Regions from separate parts of the Homo sapiens genome. Here all the other regions are linked to region 1. A link means that fine-mapping ties the variant in region 1 to the expression of a gene that starts in the linked region. Tissue or cell type: monocytes after Pam3CSK4. Region 1 holds a variant in brackets; each other region holds the start of a gene. All regions are shown on one strand. Distances are from middle to middle.

The links. PIP is the estimated chance that this variant, and not a neighbour inherited with it, causes the effect.
Region 2: it holds the start of STRBP, and the variant in region 1 is fine-mapped to the expression of STRBP in monocytes after Pam3CSK4 (Quach 2016, PIP 0.95). The same link has a PIP of 0.9 or more in monocytes after LPS and monocytes after R848.
Region 3: it holds the start of MIR600HG, and the variant in region 1 is fine-mapped to the expression of MIR600HG in monocytes after Pam3CSK4 (Quach 2016, PIP 0.95).

What each region holds. Positions count from the first base shown.
Region 1 is chr9:123,329,377-123,337,478 of GRCh38, reverse strand. LOC124902266 (a long non-coding RNA gene) reads left to right here. Exons shown (of 2, transcript XR_007061760.1): 2 at 1-78. Among named protein-coding and RNA genes, the nearest start is that of CRB2, 23 kb to the left of the region's middle. The variant G/A (reference allele first, on the strand shown) is at 3,552.
Region 2 is chr9:123,264,708-123,272,809 of GRCh38, reverse strand. STRBP (spermatid perinuclear RNA binding protein) reads left to right here and starts at 4,224. Exons shown (of 19, transcript NM_018387.5): 1 at 4,224-4,374. RefSeq lists silencers at 3,799-4,278, 4,449-4,498 and an enhancer at 3,898-4,398.
Region 3 is chr9:123,110,710-123,118,811 of GRCh38, reverse strand. It overlaps MIR600HG (MIR600 host gene), which reads left to right and starts at 3,335. Exons shown (of 1, transcript NR_026677.1): 1 at 3,335-8,102. MIR600 (microRNA 600) reads left to right here and starts at 7,169; the gene lies at 7,169-7,266. It also overlaps a transcript of STRBP not described here. RefSeq lists an enhancer at 6,704-6,853.

The DNA of each region.
Region 1 (8,102 bases):
CTGCTGCACTCTAGCCTGGGCAACAGAGCAAGACTCTGTCTAAAAAAAAAAATAATAATAAATAAATAATCATTGAGATATCTTACTTTCTTCCATACTAAGTCTTCAAAATCCAGTGTGTATTTCACACTTGTAACACATCTCAGTTTGGAACAGCTGCATTTCAACTGCTCAACAGCCACATGTGGCCAGAGGCTACTGCACTGGGCAGCACAGTGCTAGACTATAAACTCCATGAGGGCAGGGACCAAGCCATACCCACAATTATTAAATCTAGCATCTGACACAGAGTGGACACTCAAGAAATGTTTGTTGACTGACTAGCTGAATGAAAGAATGAATGAACAAATGAATGAAGGAATGAACAAATGATCTAAGGCCTTCTCAGATCTGAAGCCACACTCCCAGCACAGGCCATGGGAAGGGCATGGAGATGAATTCCAGCCCCACCTCTGCACCCACTTCTCTGAGTGACTGTAAGTACCTCCACTTTTGGGGCCTCAGTTTCTCCAGCTGGTCAATGGCTGGGGGGCTGGACTCTTGTGATTTTTCTGGGCTCTCACTAGAGGACTTTACCCAGAAGATGGGAGTTGGGCCCTCGGTGAAGTTCCCTCCTCCATGCCACCCCATCACCCTACTCTCCCTCCACCTGTAAGATAGGAGATCTCAGGAAAGGCCTCCAGGTGGCCTTCTGTACAGAGTGGAGCCACACCCAAGAGGGGAAAGCTGAGGCAAGGCTTGGTACCTTGGCACAGGCAGCAAGGCCAGGGTGGGGGTGCTGAGGCTTGGCCTCCTCCCTCCAGCATCATCACCCCCACACCTCACATTTGTTCAGAGTTGAGAAGAGAGCAGGGCGGGGCTTATCCTTTCAGTTCTGCAGAGAAGGATAAAAGAGACCGAGAGACATGCCAAGACCAGTCTGAGGTCACATGGGGGGCATGACAGAACTGGCTACTGCCCTAGACCTCTGTTTTTCTCATATGAAAAATGGATACAAAATGTGTCGTCATCCTATCAAACATCAATGCCTCAAATCCAAGCTCCACTACTTAACAGCCCTGTGATCTTGGGCAAGGTTTACCTGGCTGTGCCTCAACATCCTTATTTGTAAATGGGTATCATAATAGTGGCAACCTTGCGGGGTTGTTGAACCATTAATGTGTGAACGTATGTAAAGCGCTCATAAGAATATCTAGGACACTGTGAACGCCATATGAGTGATAGATATTATTATCAGCCTTTATCACAGAGCTGTACTGCAGTTTAAATAAAGGAAGAGGTGTGACCAGGGTTTGCAAACTCTGAAGTCCCCTCTGGAGAGGTAAGCACCTTTTGGCTGCAAAGAATGTTGCAAACTATAAAATGCCGTGTGACTTGCAAAGCACTTTGTAAATGTTGCCGCAGTGAGGAGGCTATTGTAGGTTAGCCTTTCATAATCCAAAAAGCACTTCAAAATCATAAATCACTTTGGGGACCGAAGAGCTCTTTGTAGGGGCTTTCTAGACTGTTGAGTGCTGTGCAAGTCAGAGACAAGTGGCCTTTCAAAGACATGAGCAAGAAGCCGGGGGGGAGTGGGGAGAGAAAGAAACCAGCCCCAGAGAATAAAAACAGCAGTCGTTTTCCTCTGCTCTCGTCACCTCCCGTGCCAGCCAGTGCAGAGAAATTCCAGCAGATCTGCAGATTCCTGCGATTCTGTGCTGAGGCCAGGGAGGCCTCCCTGCATCGCTGACTCAGCCAAACGAGAGGGTGTGAGTTAAGCAGGAATCAGCTCCATCTTCCTTGCTTCTGTGCCTCTTCTTTTTTCTTCCTTCTGCCACAAAGGCAATGAACCTGACACCATTTAAAGATTTCCCTCTTTGGCCTCCTGATGACCTTGCCCTGAGGCCCAGACTTGGGCCTGCTCTGGAGACCCAGCCTGGGATGTCTGCCACCCCCATCATGGAAGGAGTAATAGGGCTGTGAGGGCAGAGGGCAGGTGGGGCCAGGCAAAGACCCTGGGCTCCAATCCCAGTTCTGCTATTTCTCATCTATGACCTCGGGCAAGTTCATTTACTTCTCTGAGGCTGAGTCCCTCAGCCATAACATGGGGTTGACAATGCTCATCTTGTGTGTCATCGTTAGGTGGCCTGGTGTGCATGCAAGTTCTGTCCCTTCCTCTAACTGTAGGCATGAGGGCCTTCTGATAAGGGAGAAATAGATACCAAGGCAGCTTCTACAGTGTAGGGGCTTTGAGCATGAGTTTTCAAATCATAAAAACTTGGGTTCAAATCCTGGCTCTGGCCAGGCCCGGTGGTTCACGCCTGTAATCTCAGCATTTGGGGAGGCTGAGGCAGTCAGATCAGATCACTTAAGCCCAGGAGTTCCAGACTAGCCTGGACAACATGGCAAAACCTAGTCTCTATAAAAAATTTAAAAATTAGTTGGGCATGGTGGCACACTCCTACAGTCCCAGCTACTCTGGAGGTTAAGGATTAATGCCTACAATCCCAGAGTAGCAGGGAGGATCGCTTGAGCCCAGGAGACGAAGTTTGCCATGAGCCAAGATCACACCACTGCACTCCAGCCTGAGTGACAGAGTGAGACCCTGTCTCAAAACAAAAAACAAAACAAACAAACAAAACTTCTGGCTGTGCAACAAACCAGCTGTGTGTCTTTAGGCAGGTCATATTACCTTTCTGAGCCTCTATTTCCTTGACCCATAGGATGAGCATAATAGTCTATCTTGTAAAGTGTTTACAAGGACTTGAGACATGATGCATATGGCATGTGTGGCACAAAACCTGGCACACAATCACAGCTCAATGAATGGTCACGATGATTCCCCCACCTCCCCAGGCTAGTTTGACAGTCTCATTGTATTCCATCATATCACACACGTCTCCTTCAGGTGTTTCCTCATGCTTTCAAGTAATAGATTAAAAGCTTCTGGACCCAGCCAGAACCTGCCACCCCTGCTATTTCTGCAAACCCCCCTGAGATCCCTTTTCCACAGCTCACTCTCCTCTACTCATATCTCTATCTGCAATATGTCAACCTCAATGTGAAACTCAACTCCTTCTTGAGCCTGTCACAAGCCAGGCATGAACAATACATCCTCTGCTATAGATTTCATTAACGGGAGAGGGGTCTACACTGCAGCCTCTCTTCCCAGGAATTGTGGTGAACATAGTCATCTTCGTCCAGTTACAACCATGGGTCTGTATACCCCTTGAGGGATGTGGCTACGTGCCTTGTTCGCTGTTGCTTCCCCAACACCCAGTGCAATATCTGGCCCCCAAGAGGCAGATCTAAAACACGCGGTGAGTAAATTAATATACGACAGGGAAAGACGCTCTTGAGCTGGGGGAGAATCATGTGGTTGTCCAGTGCCCTCAGCTCTCAGGTCAGTTTTGTGGCAAGGGGACAGATTTGGTCCCCGCTGCAGTCAGGAAGAGGCTGATACTGATGTGTGTCCATTTCAGACCTCAGAAATAACCACCTGCCCAATACAGTCTTGGCCTTTTCAAGGTTCATGTGCCTATTAACACTTGGGGATCCTTCTTCACCCTCAG[G/A]TCTGATGCTTTCCCATCAGCAATTGTCACCAAGAGTGACTAAGACACAGGACAGTGGTTCCCCAAACCAGCTGCACATCAGAAGCCCCTGGGAAGCTTTGGAACACCAGAGCCACTTGGAGGTCAGGTTCCCCCGAGATCCTGATTCAAATGGTCTGGTGTGGGGCCTGATAATTGATTTGTTTAAAAATCATAGCTGATTCAAAATTATATCACTGACGGCCAGGCGTGGTGGCTCATGCCTATAATCCCAGCACTTTGGGAGGCTGAGGCAGGTGGATCACCTGAGGTCAGGAGTTTGAGACCAGCCTGGCCAACATGGTGAAACCCTGCCTCTACTAAAAACACAAAAATTAGCTGGGTGTGGTGGTACGTGCCTGTAATCCCAGCTACACAGGAGGCTGAGGCAGGAGAATTGCTTGAAGCCAGGAGGCGGAGGTTGCAGTGAGCCGAGATTGTGCCATTGCACTCCAGCCTGGATGACAAAGCAAGATTCCATCTCAAAAAAGAAAGAATAAAGAAAAAGAAAAAAAATCACTGAGGCAGAGAAAGGTACTTTTTGTTTTGTTTTGTTTTGTTTTTTAACAAATGGGTCTATGAATGCCTGCGGGCTTTCCATCTAAAGCCCTCCATGAGTCAGGCAGTCTGTGGGCTGGATGAGGGCCCGGCTGAATGCTGGAGAGGAAAGCATGTGGGCTTTGGAGTGACTGTAGATGTGGTTTTGAATTTTACAACGTCCTGGCTCTGTAGCCTTGGGAAAGTCACTTCACCAATCTGAGCCTGGGCTTCCTCCTCCATCAATTAGCAATCAGAATTCCTGCCTCACAGGTCGGCTGGGAATAATCAATGAGAGAATGTCGTATGTAATTATCTGGCACAGGGCCCAGCCTAGGGTTGGCGCTTTGTAAAGTGAGGTTCTGTTGCCTTCCTGAGCAAGCTTGGGGTAGGAGGGGAGGGCAAGTGTGGCCCCCACATTGGCCTGAGCCCTTGATGGGAAGAACACTGGACTGGGAGAAAGGAGGTGTGGCCCTGTCCTAGTTCTAGACCATCATGAGGTGTGACCTTGGCCAAGTCACTCCCATCTCTGAGGCTCGGCGACCCCATTTGACTCAACCCTAGGAGGTAGTTAAGTGGTGAGATTTAGGGGGAGATTGACCTGGTTCAGCCAATTATCTGGGGCAAGGCACTCAACCTATTTCTTTGGACCTCAGTTTCCTCCTCTGTAAGACAGAGATCCATTGGTGCAGATTCTTCCCAATTCTGTGTTCAGTGATATCATATTGGTAGCTTGAAATCAACCATAGTGGGAGTATTTACACCAAGGAAATTGGCAAACATTACACATCAGGGATCCCCCCTCACCTTCCCCCAGCAGTTTACCAGCACACCACTGGAACTCAGATAACGATACCTTCCGCCATGCATGTTGGGAGTTTCAGAAAGCTATTGCCTGTTTTTTTAAGCACTTAGCACAACACCTGGGACATAGTGGGCACTCACACATGCTAATTAAACACACTTAACATTTGTCAGCCATCACTTTGCTTGGTATAAAGTGTTCACACATCTGTCATCTTATATAACTTGATCAGCCCCAGGAAGTTTCCAGAGGAGGAAATCCAGGCTCAGACAGGCTTGCTGACTTCAAATGCAATTACATTTTGCAGGCCCACTCTATACTGAGTTATTCTTACATATCCATCCCATTTCAGCCTCACAACTCCCTTTCATTACAGATGAGGGATCAATGGCCCAGAAAGGGCGAGCGACCTGCCCAAGGTCACAACGCACTGAGTCTGAGGCCTTGGTATCCATCTTGAACCTGCTTCTGCCAGTGCCCATCTCTGCCAGGCACCCTCCCCACCCCATCTAGCTGCCTAGTCTCCAGTGAGGGCAAACTCTGCCGATATGATCTCTCTGGCCCTTTCCAGCTCTGACATCCTCAGTATTTAAATCAGCACATGAATATTTCACAAGTATCCCGGGCGAAAATAACCCCCTGCCTGGTTATGTCAGGCTGCGGCCCCAGTCGCTAGGCCACGGCTCTCTTGCTATTTGCGAGACATGCAATTCTGCGAGGCCTCCCAGCAGCAGCCCAAGGAATCGATAGTCTTTAAATAAGTAATTAGAGGAGCGGAAGACGTCGGCAGAGCTAGAAGGGAGCAGGGGAATATAAACTCATAACTCTCCCAAGTTCACTGTTAAGAGCTTGGTTCTGTTTTTTGGTCAAGAAATGTGGCAGGGCCTGGGGCAGGGTGAGAGATGGCGACGGTCAGGGGAGAATCAGAGGAAAACAGTCATTGTTGTTATTTATTGGGTACTTCCTATGTGTCAGGCTTTGTCTCATGATTGCCTTACCCAAAGTTCTCCTAAAGTCATTGAGGTTCAGAGAGGGGAAGTCAGTTGCCCAGGGCCACACAGCTGGAGAGTGGCAGAGGCTGCAGCCCGTCTGACCTCTGAGCAGGGTTTCTCAGTCTTGGGTTATTGACATTTGGGGCTGGAGCATTCTTTGTGTTGGGAACTGTTGTGTGCAGTGCAGGGTGTTTTGTAGCATCCCTGGCCTCTATGTACCAGATGCCAGTAGCACCTCATCCCCACTTGTGACAACCAAACATGTCTCAAGATGTCGCCCAATGTCACCTGTGGGGCAGAATCACAGACCACAGTATACAGTCTGTGTTCACTTTGCTGCTCTCTTCCTCTGCTTTTAGGATATGGATTAAAACCCTTCTCTTAGGCCAGGCATGGTGGCTCACACCTGTAATCCCAACACTTTGGGAGGCTGAGGTGGGCAGATCACCTGACGTCCGGAGTCTGCCCAACATAGAGAAACCCCATCTCTACTAAAAATATTTTAAAAATTAGCTGGGCGTGGTGGCATGTGCCTGTAATCCTAGCTACTTAGGAGATTGAGACATGAGAATCACTTGAACCCAGGAGACAGAGATTGTGGTCTCTGCAACAGAGATTGCACCACTGCACTCCAGCCTTGGTGACAGAGTGAGACTCTGTCTCAAAAAAACAAACAAACAAACAAACAAAAACCCTTAGCCTTAGCCTAGAGAGGCAGATCTGGAGACAAAGCTGGCTGCGTGGGAATACCAACTTCTCTACTCACTGGCTGTGTGACCTTGGCCAAGTTGTCAACCTCCTTATGCCTCAGTTTCCCTCTCTGTAAAATGAGGGCCTACACAAAGGTTATCATGAAGTTTAGACTAGTCAATATACCCATGTAACAAACCTGCACATGTACCTACTGTATCTAAAATAAAAGCTGAAGTTATTTTTTTAACGTTAGTATTATATATCCAAAGCATTTAGAACAGTGCCTGGCACGTATGTGTGAACCCCCGTCGTGATCCCAGAGCCTACCTGACCAAGCCCCAGCCCATCTCTGCAGCAACCCTGGTACCTCTCTCCCCATGAGAATAAAAAGAGAAACTGTCCTAGAAGCTAGGGAAGAAGCATCTTTGACAACTTCTGCTGTTCCTACCTTCCCTGATGCACGCTGCTTCCCACCATTCCTGGAGGAGTTGGGAAAACAGCAATAAGGATGGCCTTTGGTCCCAAAGGTTCCCAAGGTAATGACAAAAGCTGCTACTTCCTGTCTCCCTGCAGCTCTCTCTGTGCATGAAGAGGAGGGTAGAGGCACTGCACACTGATTTAACAAACGCATCCGATTAGAACACGGTTCCTTTTATTATCCGGAAAGCTATAAAAATACATAGAAACGAACATATTTTATCACTGGAGTTGGTCTTCACATTTTATGGGTCTGTAGCGGGTGTTTTTGTTTTACCGACATTTGTTAGAAACAAGGTTCTGGAACGTTGTCCTTGTTTGGGTGCTCGTGAGAAATTGTATCCAGAAAGGCATTTCAGGACCTGTCCCTATGGAAACAGCCCCACTGCAGGAGTGTGCGTGACAGGGTGAGTGTGAGTGCGTGTGTGTGTGTGTGTGTGTGTGTGTGTGTGTGTGTGTGTGTGTAGCTAAAGTCCTCCTTTTTCCCAGGAGCAAGGGTGCCTAGGGATTACCTGGTCCAGCCTTCTCATATAGTTGAGGAAACTGAGGCCCAGACAGGGCAGTGCTTTATCCAGGATCACAGAACAACTCGGTTCAGCAACTATTTTCTGAGCGTATTAGTATCACCTTAGCTGCTCTAATAAACACCCCCACCCCAGTAACACAATAGACTTTTCTTGCTCACAGGACAGAGTTCCTGGTTGGTCAATGAGCCTTCCACTACGTGATTCAGGGACCCAGCCTCCCTCCTTATTGTGGTGACACCTTTTCCTAGAACTCAGAATCATCTGCTTTCGTCTGGATGAGGGAAGAATTTGGAGGATTACACATTGAAGGTTTTTATGGTCCAGGCCAGAAGTGGCCCATGTCACTTCCGTCCATGTCCCACTAGTCAAGGCTCAGTCACATGTCATGCCTAACCACAGGGAAGCCGGGAGGTGTCACCTGGCTCTGTGCCCAGGAGGAAGAGAAAGGCTGGTGAACAACTGTCCAGGTCTTGGTGCCTGGGCTGGAAGATGCATGAGCAGA
Region 2 (8,102 bases), 65 kb after region 1:
TAACTCCTGACCTCAGGCGATCCGCTCACCTCGGCCTCCCAAAGTGCTGGTATTACAGGCATGAGCCCCCGGCACCCAACCAGTCTGTTTGATTTTTTTACAAAAATGTATCAGGCCCTGTGCAGAGGCTCACACCTGTAGTTGCAGCACTTTAGGAGGCTGAGGAGGGAGTATCCCTTGAGCCCAGAGTTTGAGACCAGCCTGGGCAACATGATGAAACCCAGTCTCTACTAAAAAAAATACAAAAAGTTAACCTGGCACAATGGCATGCCTGTAGTCCCAGCTGCTCAGGAGGCTGAGGTGGGAGGATCGCTTGAACCTGGGAGACAGAGGTTTCAGTGAGCCGAGATTGCGCCACTGCACTCCAGCCTGGGTGACAGAACAAAACTCTGTCTAAAAAAAAAGAAGTATCAGATATACCAGAAAAAACAAAAAATAGAGACAGAAAGTAGACTGGTGTTTGCTTGTGGCCAGGGTTGGAAATGGGATTAACACTTAATGAGCATGAGAGTCTTACGGGGGATCCATAAGGTATGCTAAATGTTCTTTTTTTTTTAGACAGAGTTTTCCTCTGTCACCAGGCTGGAGTGCAGTGCCATGATCTTGGCTCACTGTAACCTCTGCCTCCTGGGTTCAAGCCATTCTCCTGGCTCAGCCTCCTGAGTAGCTGGGATTACAGGTGTCCACCACCATGCCCAGCTAATTTTTGTATTTTTAGTAGAGACGGGGTTTCACCATGGTGGTCAGGATGGTCTCGATCTCCTGACCTCGTGATCTGCCCACCTTGGCCTCCCAAAGTGCTGAGCCACCGTGCCCGGCAAGGTATGCTAAATGTTCTGAAACTGACTTATGTTAATGTTGCACCACTTAGTGAAGTTACTGAAAATCATTGGATTGTACATTTTTGAAATGCATAATTTTATGTGTAAACTATACCTCAAGTAAATTGTTAAAAATCTATGTGTGATTACACGCCTGTAATCACAGCACTTTGGGAGGCCAAGGCGGGAGAATCACTTGAGACCAGGAGTTCGAGACCAGCCTGGCCCATCTCTACTAAAAATACAAAAAAAATTAGACGGGTGTGGAGGCACACGCCTGTAATCCCAGCTACTTGGGAGGCTGAGGCAGGAGAATGGCTTGAACCTGGGAGACTGAGGTTGCAGTGAGGCGAGATTGTGCCACTGCACTCCAGACTGGGTGACAGAGTGAGACTCTGTCTCAAAACAAAACAGGCTGGGCACGGTGGTTCACGCCTGTAATCTCAACACTTTGGGAGGCCGAGGCGGGCAGATCATTTGAAGTCAGGAGTTCAAGACTAGCCTGACCAACATGGTGAAACCTCATCTCTACTAAAATACAAAAATTAGCCAGGCATGGTGGCAGGCGCCTGTAATCTCAGCTACTCAGGAAGCTGAGGCAAGAGTATCACTTGAACCCAGGAGGCAGAGGTTACAGTGAGCCAAGATTGCGCCACTGCACTACAGCCTGGGCGACAGAGCAAGACCCCTCTCAAAAACAAAGCAAAACAAAAATCTGCATATGTATCCTTAAAAAATTAAAACAATGCAGAAATTTTTAAGTCCTCCATCCCCACACCCAGTTCTATCTTCCAGGCATAACCAATAGTGGTTGGTGTTTAATCCTTTCTGACGTTTTTCTATGGAGAATCCAACATACACATTACAGATAAATAATTTTCTGCAACTTTCTTTTTTCTTTGGACATGTAATGAGGGACATGAAAAATTAACAGTAACTACTCTGGAGTTGGGATTGGGGTAGTGGGAGTGGAGTCAAGGGCAGGAAGGGAGAGAGACATTAACTTTTTTTTTGAGACGGAGTTTCGCTCTTGTTGTCCAGGCTAGAGTGCAATCACGGGATCTCGGCTCATTGCAACCTCTGCCCCCCGGGTTCAAGCGATTCTCCTGCCTCAGCCTCCCGAGTAGCTAGGATTACAGGTACACACCAACACGTCCGGCTAATTTTCGTATTTTTAGTAGAGATGGGGTTTTGCCCCATTGGCCAGGCTGGTCTTGAACTCCTGACCTCAGGTGATCCACACGCCTCGGCCTCCCAAAAGTGCTAGGATTACCAGCGTGAGCCACTGCGTCTGGCCTAACTTTTTACTTTCTTTCCTTTTATATAATTTGCATGCTTTTGTCTCAGTGTTTGGAGTTACAAACCCAATAAAGATATTGAAACAAGAAATACTATTGAATCCTTAATGCCATGCTGTTCTTCTATTTTAAAAAAATTAAAAATGTAACCAAGTGCTGGACACCGTGCTGAGTGCCTTAGATATACGGTTGCAATGAATCCTTCTAACAACCCTACAATATGCAATACTATTAGTCTCACTTGGCAGATGAGTAAACTTAGACTAGAGAGATTGATTTTCCAAGATCACACAGCTAGTGTGCAGTGAATCTGGATCTTTACAGTGTGGCGCCTCTTCTCCCTCTGATACTTATGGGCATCCTACAAAACCCAGCTTTAATGATCTCATGTCATGTGCACGTGTAGTCTTCCCTAACACACTTAGGCAGGAAGATGACCCTGTCCTCAAGGGACTGAGAGACCAGGGAGGAGACAGACAGCTAAACAATTACAATCTAGTGCCATGAGAATACATATAGCTTAACAGGACTATGTTCAAGCCGAGGGAGCTTAGACCATGTGTCTGAGGCAGCCAAGGATCTCCAGAGAATATACTCTGAGCTGATTGATAAGGATACCCAGGATTTTTTTCAGGAGGGTCAAGGAAGGTGTGAGTGGTCAGAGGTGGGGAGAGGGTTTAGAAAGGGATTTGCGGCCTGGCATCTGTCTCAGGAGACTCAGGCTCCTACACACCTGGGCATACTCTGGAAACAACAGTACTGTAGTTCTGTGTGGCTGGAGGGTCACATTGGCCTGAAGGAGGGGCAAAGGGAAGGGCGTGCACCTTGAAGCTTAAGGCCAGATCACCAAGGCCTTTTCAGTTGAAATTGGGTTTTTTACACTTTATTCTGTGAATGAAACAGAGCTGTTAAAATATTTGAGCCTGGTGTGTTAGAAAGATGAAAAGGGGCCCCAAGGGGGCTGTTGTGGGGAGTCCCTCCTCAACCCCTGGGCTGTTCAAGGTCCTCTGTCTTGGCACTGAGTGGTCAGGTCGTTTCTGCTCCAGGCTGGGAATTGTCTTAGGGCAAAGACATTGTCTCATTTGCCAGTGCATCCCTGCAGCCTGCAAACCCCCCGGTATACAGCAGGGACTGTATACTGGCAAGCAGAATGCTGGGCACCAAGAACTTGAGGCCAGGGACTGTAGAATAGAAAGCGAACCTTTAATTCTTCCCCAGCGCCGCCCCTGGCACAGAGCTGGTAGGTGTTCAGCCAAAGTCTGACCCAACCATAAGGAGGTCAGAGAGGTCCTGGGCCCAAACTCAATCCCAGCGAGGTTCATTATAGGCAGGTGAAGGAGAGGTGATTGTAGCAGCTTCTGTTCAGCGACTGCTGTGTGCCAGGATTCACACCTATTGTCTTATGCCATCTCCCCAACAGCTCCTAAATTGGAATTATTGTCCCAGTTTTCCTGATGAGGAAACTGAGGCTCAGAACGGTTCTTGGTAACTTGGCCAAGGTCACACAGCCAGCAAGTAGGTGGGCGGTGGCACAAGTCAAAGCCTACTGGCCTGCCCCTCTACCTCGGGAGGCAGTGCGACGCCTACTCCATTTGTGTGGCTGCTGGGGTTGGGGGGCATCCCGCACTGGGGTGCGGGGCCCGGGGAAGGCGGCTAGCCGCCGCGGCTCGGCGCAGCTCCCAGGTTCGGAAGTTACGAAGTTTCCGTGCATTTCGCTAGCCTCCCAGCGCAGCTCGTCTCCGCTCCGCCGCAGTTACGCCGCTAGCGCAGCGGGGCTCAGGTGCTGCAGCGAGCGGGGGCCTGGGGCCGGGAGGAAGGCGGGGACGCAGTTTACGTAAGCGTCCGCTGGCAGGTGCATAAGGCCGCCGGCGGCGAGTGCTCCCTGCGCGCTCCCAGGTGCGCACTTGGCGCAGGCGGCGGCACAGCAAGGCGGCGGCGGGCGCTGGCCGGCGCTCTCAGGTGCGGCAGGACGCGCGTGGAGGGGGCGCGCGGCGAACGAGGGGGCGGGCTTTCCGTTCCCCAGCAGCCGCGGGGCCCGCCCCCTGGCCTGGCCAATGGGCGCGCTCGACGGTGTCACGTGCTCGCTGCCGCCGCTGCCGCCGCCGAAGCGGAGACCGGAGCCGCGAGCGCCACCAGGGCAGCAGCCGCCGCAGCCGCCGCCGCTGGGCAGAGGAGCCGGAGACGCGAGCGGGCGAGGTGGCGGCGGCGGCGGAGCGGGAGCGGGTACCGGGCGCGGGCAGAGCGCGGCGGCGCGGGTAGGCTCCGGCGGCGGGGCGGGCGCCTGCGCGGCGGGCCGTCCCGGGCGGGCGGCGGTTAAGGCGGCGGTTGAGGCGGTTGGCGGAGCCGGCCCGGGCCCCGCATTGTTTGTTGTGCGTCCTTAGCAGCGGCGGCGGCGGTGGCGGCCGAGGCGGAGAGCAGGGAGCAATCCCGGCCCCGCGGCTCCGGCATTGTGGCCGCCGCCGCCGCCGCTGCGGTGCCCCGGCCGCTTCGGGCAAGGGCAGCGGGCAGCCTTCCTCACCTTCGCGGGGACGGGGTCCCGGCCGATCAGGGGAGGGCGTGGGCAGGGTTGGGGGACGCGGTGCCGGGAGGTCTTCCGGGACGGAGGGCTCGGGGCTCGGGGCAGGTGTTGGAGGACATTGGGGGCAGGAGCTGGGGAGAGGCTTCGGGGGGCAGGCGGAAGGTGTGGGCAGATTTGGGGGTAAATAGGGGTGCAGAGGGATCCGGCCCAATGGAGGAGGAGAGCCTTCAGGCAGGTTTGGGGGGCCCCCTGGGCCAGGCGAGTGCGAGATGGAGGACATTCCGTCCGGTGGGGGGGGGCACTATATTGTGGGGTTCAAGAGGGAATGAGGGGGCTTTTGGGGAGGGCAGGGACGAGTGGGGTGGGAATGGAGGGAGAAGACTGGGGACTCGAGCAGGACTGGAAGGAGCGCTGCGTGCCAGGGGCAGGGAGTGGGGCGGGTATTAGGAAGGCCACCGGGACGCCCGTGAAGGGGAACGATGGAGGAGGGGGTCGGGGCAGGGGGAAGTGAGGGCAGGCAGGGAGCGCCTGAAAGGGAGGGAGGGGAGCAGGGTGCCTAGGCTTCTGGGGTGATAGGGAAATGAAGGGTAGGCCCAGGGGCTCCAGGAGACCTGCGAGGGGTGTGAGGGAGTGTGTGGCCAGGTGTATAGGGGAGCCTGCAGGGAGGCGGGAGGGGGTTGACATGTAAGGATAAAAAGGCAGGTATCTGGTGCTCAGGGAAGAGGAGTATGGGGTGGAAGGGGGAAGTTCATTGGGGCAGAGACTTAGTTTGAGGGCTTGCAGAGAGAGGTGGGGACAGTAGGAGAAGGGTGATGGGGATGGAGAGCAGGAGGTGTGTGGGGCATTTAAAGGATAGCGGGAGAAGTGCGTGAAATGGAGGGTGTTTATGCAGGAAGTATGGAAGAAGGTGGGATCAGCAAGAGAGGGAATTTTGAGGTAGGACGGAGGGTGAGGGGTTCTTGGCAAGTGTTGGAGGACGTTAGGGGCAGGAGCTGGGGGAGAGGGACAGGTGTGGGGTGGCGTGGAGTGTGTGAGGTGGAGGGCAAAAGGGGGTGGGGAAAGGGAAGTGTTCTTGGAGTGGCAGGTAAAGTGTGGGGACAAATGGAAGGAAAGATTTCTGAGGCGGGAAGTGTGGAGCGGTTGGGGAGGAGGAAGGTGGAGGGGAGGGTGAGAACGAAATCAGTAGAGGGGGACAACGGGATAGACTGGAGGGGAAGGTGGACAGGTCTGGAGTACAGTAGGTGGAGGGAGGGAAGCACAGGTTTGGGGCACTGAATTTTGTGCTGTAGGGAGAAGGGAGGTAGGGAGAAAGAAGGAAGGTAGACAGGCTATTTTGGGGTAGAGGATGTAGAAGAATGCTTAATACCTATAGTGGAGTAAGGGAAGGGCAAGGCAGAGGTGTATGTGGACATGTCTGTAACTAGAAAGGCATAGGTGATGGATTGGAGTGGTGGTGGTGGTGGTGGGGGAAATAGGATGCCCAGGTTTAGGGCAGGAAATGACTGCTTAAGTTGGAGAGAGCTAGGAACACAGGTTGCTTAAGAGAGTATGGAAGATCCAAGGAGTGGAAGTATGGGGAGAGATTGGAACACTTTGAGTTTGAGAGATGAAAGGGGCCAAGATTTTTAGGTCACTGAGAGTCTAAGGAAGATCAGGCAGAGTGCAGAAGTTGGAAAAATAACTAAATGGAGAGGATTAAATTCCATACTGAGAGAAACTGGAGATTGAGGGGTGGGGGGACCTGGATCCTGGAATGATGTTAATGGAAAGTGGAGGACATTAAACTCAGTGTCATATCTGAAAGTTCATACTCCTAGGGTCAGAGAGATCGTTGAGCCTGCTTTTAATTCCAGAACCCAGTAAATGAGGAAGGGGGAAGGGGTAAGGGAGAGCTGAGTGCACATCCCCAAATTTGGGAGAGGTGTGTAGTGGGTATCATCCTAGCATATTGGTTTGACGAGTGGACAGAAGGGCCACACAGGGTCACGAGGAGCGCACCAAGAGTGAATGGAAATGGGATTGCAGCAGGTGCAGGGCAGATGTCTTTGTGAAACTGGAAGAGACCAGGCCCAGTGGCCAGTAGCATTCAAGGGCTATGCATAAGAGAGGAAGAAAGGGATACCTTGGTGCAGTGTCTCAGATACCCTGGTGCTTTCTGGGTAATGGGTCAGTATTCAGGCAGCATGGGGTGATGTAATATCTGAGTCCCATGCTATAGGCAGACAGAAGTAATGTACACCTAGCTCCTAAAAGTGGCAGAATTGGAGCTTTCTGACTCTTAACACTCTTTCAAGGCGTGAATAACTGATCTGGATTGTTGACTTTTTCTCCCAAATGGTTCAGGTAAAATTTAGTTGGAGGCTTTTGGATTCTCTGGTATTTTGATTTGAGTTGGGAAGTGTAATGTTAGCTTTATTGAGGAAAGACACTTATGGGTTGGGCGGACATATGGCCTTCAGCTTGCCAAACACATGGGAAGTAACCTTTAGGGGTTTGAACACAGACATTTATTTCAGTGCAAGTCTCATTCACTGTTCTGTGGCTTGTGTTAGATTCTTAGGGGTTTGAAAGGATTAAGCAAACTACTTTGAGACTGCTTCAGTAAGCAAGGTTTCCTAGAATCTTGGAAAACGATTTCCCTTTTGACAGTTGAAAATTAAGTCTTGTCAGATTTTGCTAAGAAATAAATTTCATCATGTTGCAGAAATAACTTCAATTATCACTCTGTGGGCTTCACGTAATGTGTAGTGTGGTACCTAGTATGATTTCAAATAAAAGGTTCGCTTTGGTAGCTTGGGAGCTTTCTGGGTTGATTAGTTTTCTTCTTTTGTCGATTTAGGAAGTATCTTAATGCAGCCATTGTATGTTCGAATAATAAGTTTGAGTGGAAGTGGGAATCTTGCCTAAACATAATGAGGGCGGAGCAGAACACCAAATTTTAAGTAATCGGAATCCGTTAATATAAATATTAAAAAAAAAACCTGGAAGCAAATGATTCGTAAAATCCAAATTTGAAGTGTGTCATGGCAGCAAAAGAATGCTCTGAAGGCATTACTGTAAGATTTTATTTTTGGAGGGAAAGATTTTTAGAGTATAATGTCCCTTCGATTGAAACTCTGAGTATTTTGAGATTTGATATATGTATACAATATAATATAGGGAGCATGTCTGACCTCATTTGCTTTTTGGCAGAGAATTTGAGCAGTAGGATATAAGATGAATAGAGTGAGCTTTGAAAGTTCTCTCCAACATAGCCATTGTTTCCTCCTTATATTTCTTAAGTCCATTGTGTTCATTTTATTGACTTGGGGTGCGCACTACTTTCTTGCTCAGAATACTCAATTCTGGTATAGTGTTCGGATTATATGTATTGTTCAGTGAAATTCTATGAATTGGGACAATTTGTAGGCACTTTAGATATCCTAAGTTTACGAACCAAGGAAAGCAGGTTATTTAGGCTTTGTA
Region 3 (8,102 bases), 220 kb after region 1:
GCTGTTGGTAAGAGGTGAGCTAAGTGGGGAACATAGATTGGAGCCCTCAGATGCTCCAAGTTTATAAAAACTGCGTTACGTAGACAAGGACTGAGTGTTACCTTTAAGGAGGCAAATAAGATTTGGCTTGTAGTCAGGAGGTTTTTCTTAAATCTAAGAAATACTTGTTTAGCTAATGTCCTGCAAAAGTTAGTACATTCCCCCCAGGGGAGGCTGTTTGGTGGAGTCTTTGCCTTGTTCAGCCAGCATTGAGGGAGGACTTTTTTGCCTTGACTGATCAGTTGTCAACATTCTAATTACTTACTCCTTCTGAGGAGGGTCTTGGTCTCTCTTGGCAGAACTTTGCCATTTCTGCAGATGAACTGTGCCACCCTGCTGGTGGGCAGAGTGAAGATAGCCACTGTTTGCCCAGGCAGTTTCAGCACTGGACAAAAGGTGTCTGCATGCAGGTGTCTGCTAAATGCCCCAAGTAATGAGGTGAACAGCAGCCCTCAGTTTAGGTCATTTGGAGCAGCAGTGGACTGAAGGAGTAGGAAGGGAAGGGGAAGGAGAGATGCCAACATTTGTATCTTGTGTGCCAGGCACTTGGACATTCTTCTGAATTCTCCAGCTACCTTTCTGGCAATAGTAGTATCCTTAGTTTACAAAAGAAACTGATGCTCCAGGTTAAGTGCTAGAACCATTAATGGAACCTAGTTCTGTTCTAAAGCCTTTTTCTATTCCATCCTGCTATGGATTAAAAGGCTGCGGCCGACAGGATGGGCTCTGCTGGTAGCTAGGCCCTCTGACTTGAGGTGACTCCAGATCAGATAACCTGGCCTAAAATAGGGCTCTTTTCATTTAAATTGGTTGTGAAGAACGATTTAACATACTGGAAGGACAGACTGAAGGGCTGCATTGCATCTGTATCCACAGAGGAAGCATTTTTATCTAAAGCTTGTTTTTCTTTGAATTTCAGTGAAATCTGAGGTATGTGTTTTCACTTAGCTTATATTTTCCGAGTGCATGTTCTCTGCCTGGCCTGAGATAGGTCATGAGGATGTCTTCAACAATTTAAGCCAGACTCTGAAGGCAGGCTGGTGAGGCTTTGGCTCATTGGGTACAAGGAAGAGGAGCACAGAGGGGCAGCAGCCCAGGTCTGAGGTGTAAGTGCAAGGGGGTGTCCCTGGACGAGTACTCAGTAGAGATGGGTGGTGGCAGATTGCAGAGGTCAGTGGTCATTGCCAGGAGTTTCCCTTGGAGTAGGCCTCAGGGCAGACTGCCAGCCTGGAGTTTGCTGTCTTCCCTCCAAGTTGGACCCGTGTATGGTAAGCCCTGCTTGGATGGCTTTGGGGTCTCTAAATTGCTGCCTGTGAACCACCCTGTTGAGCGTGTTGGATTCTTCTGCTGCTGTAACCACTTTACCAGCTCCTGGGCTAATGAATGACAGCTGGGTCTCTGCTCAGGCGTGGGTGGGTGCGGGGATGGCTGCGGGATCCTTTTCAGGACAAAGTATTCCTCATCCACCCCAAGTCATCCTCTTTCTGGGCACTTGGCAATGTTTCTGTGCACCCTGCTGTAATCCTGGAGGGGAGCAGGAAAAAGGAACCTTTGAATCCCAGGCTGTCGTGTTCTAGAGCATGACTGTGTCAGGGAGAATGAGCGCCTGGCATTCATAGAACACAGTCCTCTCTCAGGCCCTTTCCCGTTTGCCATTTCATGACTTGCTGTACTGGTGGCCCTTGGAGAAGCAGCAGTGCATAGATCGTTGTTCCCACCTTGCAGACAGGGAGAGTAGAGCCCAGAGATCTCTCCAAACCACACTGCTTATTTGTGGCAAAGCATTGTGGCCCCTAATGAGTTTTTAACCACCAGAAGAAATAACATTTCTTAAGACTGTTTTTAGAGGTAACAGCAGCCCTTTCTGAGGAATTAGTTTTGAATTTCACCACAACTGGAATTAGAAATTTTCTCCTTTTACAGATGAGGAAATAGATGCTTAGATAAGGTGACTTGCCCCAAATTATAGTGCGGTGAGTGGCGGCGCTCACCCCGTCTGAGGCTATGCTGTGTGCAGGTGGTTTGCGTCGCTAGTAGGCACCAATGTCCGTTCTGTCTTCCAAGCCCACTTGGCAGCAGTGGCTTCTCTCTCTGTGATGTGTTCGGCTCACCTTTCCTGTAGGCTTCTGGGCTATCCCCTGTGCGCCTTGAAACCAAGCAAAAACCAACCCACATCTCCCTGATCCTTCCTTAGCCTCCTAAAATCCAGACTTTCTGGGCTCGTTCTTTTTCTGTTCCTTTGTTAGTGTGCTACTGGGCAAGGTGACCAACTGGTCAGCCCTGGGCCAGGCAGCCTGTTTTTTTGTTTTGTTTTCTTTTTTGCCAGCTACACAGTTGGGGTTAATTTCTACAGACCATCATTTTATACTGTAACTGAACCCTATAATAAAGTGCAAATTCAGTAATTGCTACTTGGAGAGCTCCTCAGGGGTGGGAAGGAGGACAGGGGATGTGCTGTTGGAAGTATGTGTTTTATGTTCCGCCTCATCCACACTTTGGTTTTTGGCCACATCCTCCGTTCCTGGCTCGGCCTTCAAACATGTGCTCTAACCCATGGGATCACCGTCACAGTAACACATTTTCCAGAGCAATCTGGTGTTGGGATCCCCTTGGATTCTTCCATCATGAGACTTCTCGGAAGTCTCAGCTTTCTAAAAATCCCTCATTCCTGCAGAGGCTACGTTAAAGGAATATGGTAGCCATCATCTGGGAGGTAAAAAACCTATGGAAATTGGCACCTGGGGAACTCAGGAAAGCTGAAAGCACCTTGAAATGAGATGGAAGGACCAGAAGGTTAAGGCTGGTGAAGAGGAGACCTGGAGAGAACGTGGGCACTCCTGCCAGGTATTTTTAAGGGATTATATTTATTTGTTGTATGTGGTTCCAAAGGGTGAAAGACAATTATGGGAAGCCAGTGGGGCAATTTGAGCTAAAATACACCTCCCGCGATGACAGACGCAGCCTTGAGAGAGCAGCTGAGGTGCGACATGAGCTCCCTGTAACCAGCATGTTCAAGCAAGAAGCCGGTTGTGTGGACGGCAAAGAGGAAATGCTGTGGAATGTCAGTTTGGACGAACTCTGATGTTGACTGGTGATGCTGCCAAGACCATGTCTCCCTTCTTGGGCACGTAGATTTATTGAGAAAAACCATTCACTGTCACCTACTGCTTCTTACCAGGCTCTGTGATGGGGGAGAAGGAGCAGTTGGAGAAAATGTCAGAATCTGCAGCTTAGACAACTGAGTAGAAGGTGAAATCATTGACCCAGATGGAGAGTACAGGGAGGGGAAGAAAGAGGTGCAGAGGATTTGAACAGAATGAGAGTCCTCCTCTGTGCAGGGAGAAAGGCTTCAGTGGGTCTCCCCCTCCCTGCTAGGGATCCTCCTTGCCAGCCCTGGGCTGGGCGCTGGCAGGCCCGTTCCCAGGTCTCCCGCCGAGGGCAGGAGAGGAGCCAGGCCTCAGGAGAGAAGTGCTTACTGAGTAATTTACCAAGAGCGATAGGCTTCCCACTGAGCCAGACGGGATCCCCAGGAGGGGAGTCAGAGGCGGGCCTGGCATGCATGCACAGAGAGAGTGTGCCCACTTGGGGAGTGTGAAGGGCCTTGCTGTGGGACCCGAGAGGATGAGCAGAGTCAAGTGGCAGGTGGGACACACAGTCTGCAGTCACTTCTTAAAAGGCCCTGGGTGGTGTGTCCTTCAATGATGACCATTGTCCACAATAGTGAGTTCCAGAGGGTCGATTGGGACAGTTGGATAGCCAAGGACCAGAGTCAGGAGGCAAGGCTGATGAGCAAGAGGCTGTTGCCATTGGCCAGGCGAGGCGTGAGGGAGGCTGATGGAGCGCAGCAGCAGAGGGATGGAGAGGCAGGAATGGCATCTCCTCACAGGCCAGGCTCCTCTGCCGGATTGGGTAGGGACGGGAAGATGATGGCCCCCAACCCTGGGCCAAGGAACAATAGCACCCATCCGGGGGCGGGGGACCTGCTGGAGTACTTCTCCTGGACCACTGCTCAGTGGGCAATAGAGGGAACAATGGTGTTTCTGACCAGGACGGGGGAAGGCAGGGGAATGGAGGAAGATACTGACAGGGTACAGAGGAGGTAGAATGGAGCGAGGGCCATCTCCACCGGGCTAGGAAATGGGGCTTTGGTGGGCCACACTCCATTGTGCTGGAGCACTCTGGCATCTCCATTGGCAGTGGGGAGGGGCTTGTGACCTATCAGCATCTTCACCCTTTCTGAGTTTCCGCCGGGCTGGGCTCTCCAGCCAGGAGTCACAGGTACCGGGTGGTTGTTCATGCTGAGGCCTTTTGCTTGGCAAAAAGTTAATCCATTTGTGTTCATTTTTAACCTAAGCAAGGGTTGGAGCTTGTTGGATTCAGCATCTGTGGAACACAGTCTGTAGCCCATGGGAAGACGTGGACATTCTTTCCCAAGTTCTTGAAGGACGGAAAGGACCATGAACTTGTGAGGTGACCGGAGGATTGGTTTTGGGTGTCAGTTTTGTGTCTGTCCCAGTGCTGCCACTTTTGCTTTGAAATGGACGGGGAGAGCTGAAGGCCAGCATGGGTTTCTGCACCTGTTTCCTACAGCTCTGCTGGGGACTGTGGCTCAGGTGGCAGCTGTGGACACGGATCCTGTCAGCCTTTGGGTGGCCAGAGCTCCAAGGCCAGGTGTCTCTTAGCTGCAAGCAGCCTTCACTGTTAATCAACAGGCTACACAAATCTCACCTCTAAAGAGGTGAAATGTGAAAATATATGGGAAGCGCTGCCTTAGCCCTGTGTCCACAAATCCTTTCTGTAAAGGGCCAGATAGCATTTCAGGCTTTATGGACCATGTGGTCTCTGCCACAACTGCTCAGCTCTGCCACTGTAGCACAAAAGCAGCCAGAGACAGTGCGTAAATAGATAGCATGGCTGTGTTCTGATGAAGCTTCACTTACAAATACACAGGGCTGTAGTTTGCCAACCCCTGCAAAGTAGGGAGTATTTTGCCAAACTTGGCTGTATTTCACCAACCCCTTAGACTATAGAGATGACTTACCCTTTGGCTTAATCATGACTGGAAACTTCCTTCCCATCCACTGCCTGGATCCATCCACCTCCCCACAAAGGCTTCCTGAGCATCTCCTCCGTGTGAGCACTGGCTCAATGCACAGGACGATGTAGTTCCTGCCCATATGGAACTTAGGTTTTGAGTGACACGTGGGACATTGGAAGAGGAGAGCAGGTGGCTAAAGAGCATCATACAGAACAGGGCTCAGGGAAGTCCCAGGTGATAGAATCTCAAAGAGAAGGGCTGAGGGTGAATCAGGAAAGCCCTGAAGGCAGGCAGCTCCGGAGTCGGGTTTAGACGAGGAGGCTGCAGTTCTCCAGGAAGGGAAGCAGGACCAGATAACGGATGAGATTGTGTCAAACAATGAGGAGGCCTGCATAGTCACACAGGCGCATGAGGTCTGCTCGTAAAGGACCAGGAGGGCCAGGCTCAGGGGTGTGGACTGGATTCTCTGGGCTGTAGGGAGCCACTGGACAGCTGTGCTCAGGAGGGTCATGTGATCACAAATGCTTATTAGAAATGTCACTGGCTATGGAGGACCATGTCTGTGGTTGTAAGTTACGCCTTTCCGTTTAGTCTGGACTTCCTGGTCAAGGTACTTTTGGTATTAGAGTGGGGAAGAGAGGCCCAGAGAGTTGGACAGGTTTTCTGACCATTGGCTTATAGTCAGTGAGCACCCCACCTTTATTTTGACATGACAGAGCTTTACAGAATCTTCCTTCTTCAGGCGTTTTCTTTCCTGCTATCCTAAAGATTCACGTACGAGGGCAGGATAAATGAAACATTCTGTCTCCAATCTAAGTTCGGCTTGGGGCCTCAGAATATGAAGGTAAAGGGGCGGGGACGGACTGACTGCCCCTTGCTTCAGAATCAAGTCACATGGCGGGAACGCTCTATGGAGCAGATTGCTTCCTTTGTACATGCCCTAGGCCCGTGTTCAGCAGGCCTCAGAGAAGCAGAGGTGCTGGCCTCTCGTCTCCAGAGGCTGCCAGCTACTAAGGGAGGTGGAAGCAACTACCCCTGGGGGTGGACTGCTCTGGGCCGGGCCCGACGTCAGGCGTAGGGGACTGAGGTGAATCAGACGTGGTGGCTGCATTGAGGAATGCTCAGTGTAGTTGGGGTGTTTGTAGCGCTTTCTGCTGAGCATGGTCTTTCCTCTCAGAGGGGTTTCTAGGCACGTTGAAGGGAGCTGCCGTTCAGAGCATCGGAGAGGTGCCAGGGACGTGAGCTGCTGCCAGTCTGACGTGAACAGAAGGTGGGAATAGCTGGCGCTGCCGTGCGTTGATAGGAGCACAGTGTCCGCTGCGAAGGGGCGGCTAGGGCTGGAGAAAGATGGCCTGATAGAAGCGCCTCCACAGGCGCTGATTCAGCGAAGCCCCAGCAGCCCCGCGGGGCAGGCGAGGATCACATGCAGCTCGGAGAAGAGGAGGCACTTGCCCCTCTGCCTGAGCTGGGAGGTGGTGGCCAGCTGCACACAGGGCTGTCCCAGGATGCTGACGAGGCGGGACCAGCCACAGGCCGGCAGCGCTGCACTGTGACTCCCTTTCACGGGGCCCAGCCTTGTCTCTGGCCTTCCGGGACTGAGTCAGGAGGCGAGGGCTACGTTGCTGCCCCAGCACAGTCGGGCCAGGTGTGGGGAAAGGCGGGAGGGAGGTGTGCTGTGCTCTGAGCAGCCTGGCAGGCCCTGGAGAGGCAGGAAGCCACTGCAAACTTCAGAAACTGGGTGCTGCTTCCTCTCGGTGAAGTTGTGTTTTGCTAATCTCTGATAATCAGGTCAGGGATACAGAAGGAAGAGTTGCCCCTGGGTGGCTGCTGTCTTTAGACTTGTCGGGCTCCCTCTGGTACAGAAGTGCCTCTCGGATTTTGCTGCCTGGTCTTCTCTCTTATGGACATGGAGTAGCTCTCAGGCTCTTATGGTACAGCTCTAAGAAGGAACACTTCTTGCATTGTCTAGTGAAGTTTCTGGGTTTATGGAAGGGAAACTGACAAACTGGAGCCGGCACAGATGGACACTGGGTAAAGAGAATGCAGCCTGTCCCTGGCTGCAGTGCCAGGTGTGGCCTTTCCTGTGACAGCAAGTCACGTGCTGTGGCTCCAGCTTCATAGGAAGGCTCTTGTCTGTCAGGCAGTGGAGTTACTTACAGACAAGAGCCTTGCTCAGGCCAGCCCTGCCCCTGCCTACAGGCACAGGTGCTTTGCCATCTGTCCCGTTTTCCTGCTTAGGGAACCAAGATGGTCAGAAAGTTGCTTGACTCTAACCTAAATATTTCTGCCGCTTTTGCGAGTCAGACTCTTTTTCTTTTCCTTGTTCATGGAAATGGATCAAGGAGTAGGAGTTTTAGATAGCTAGGGAGGTGGTGAGAAGTTCCGTCTCCACCTGTAATTTACAAGTCGTGTCTTAGGTTTCCAGCCTCTTTCCTCTGTTCTGGGTATCTCGTGCTCTCCACCCTTTAGGGATTTTGGTGTGGTGGGTCCGTGGCAAGACACTCGATCCAGACACACGCATTTCCGAGGCACTTCCATGTCACTTACCAAGCCTCCTTGTGTGTGGATATCACTTCACTGGCTCCCTCAGGCTGCAGCCCTGACCCCCAAGGTAGTGATGGCAGCTGGTGCATGAGGTTTGATTTGGAAGTAGCCAGGCAAGCCCTGGTTGCAAAAAATACCTCTTCTATTCCGACAGCGGGCCAGAGGCCGCTGCCATTAGACGCATCCCTCTACTTACCCCCGATCACTTTTCATGGTCAGGCCGGCCTTGCACAAGCAGGTTCTGTTCACTGCGCACCCCCATTTCTTAGATGGGGTACTGAGCACTGCTTTTCCCTTAGCTCACTTCATGTGGCAGCTTCTCAGGGATGGGACCTACCATGGCTGTGGGAGATGCTTTGCTACTACTTACTACCTTTCCGAGGGAGGAGGGCTCATTTTTAGAAATGTTACTGGGGAGCCAAATTGTAGGCCTCCGACCAGAGGGCCTCGCTCTCTCCATCTCCCAGGAACCAAGGGTAGC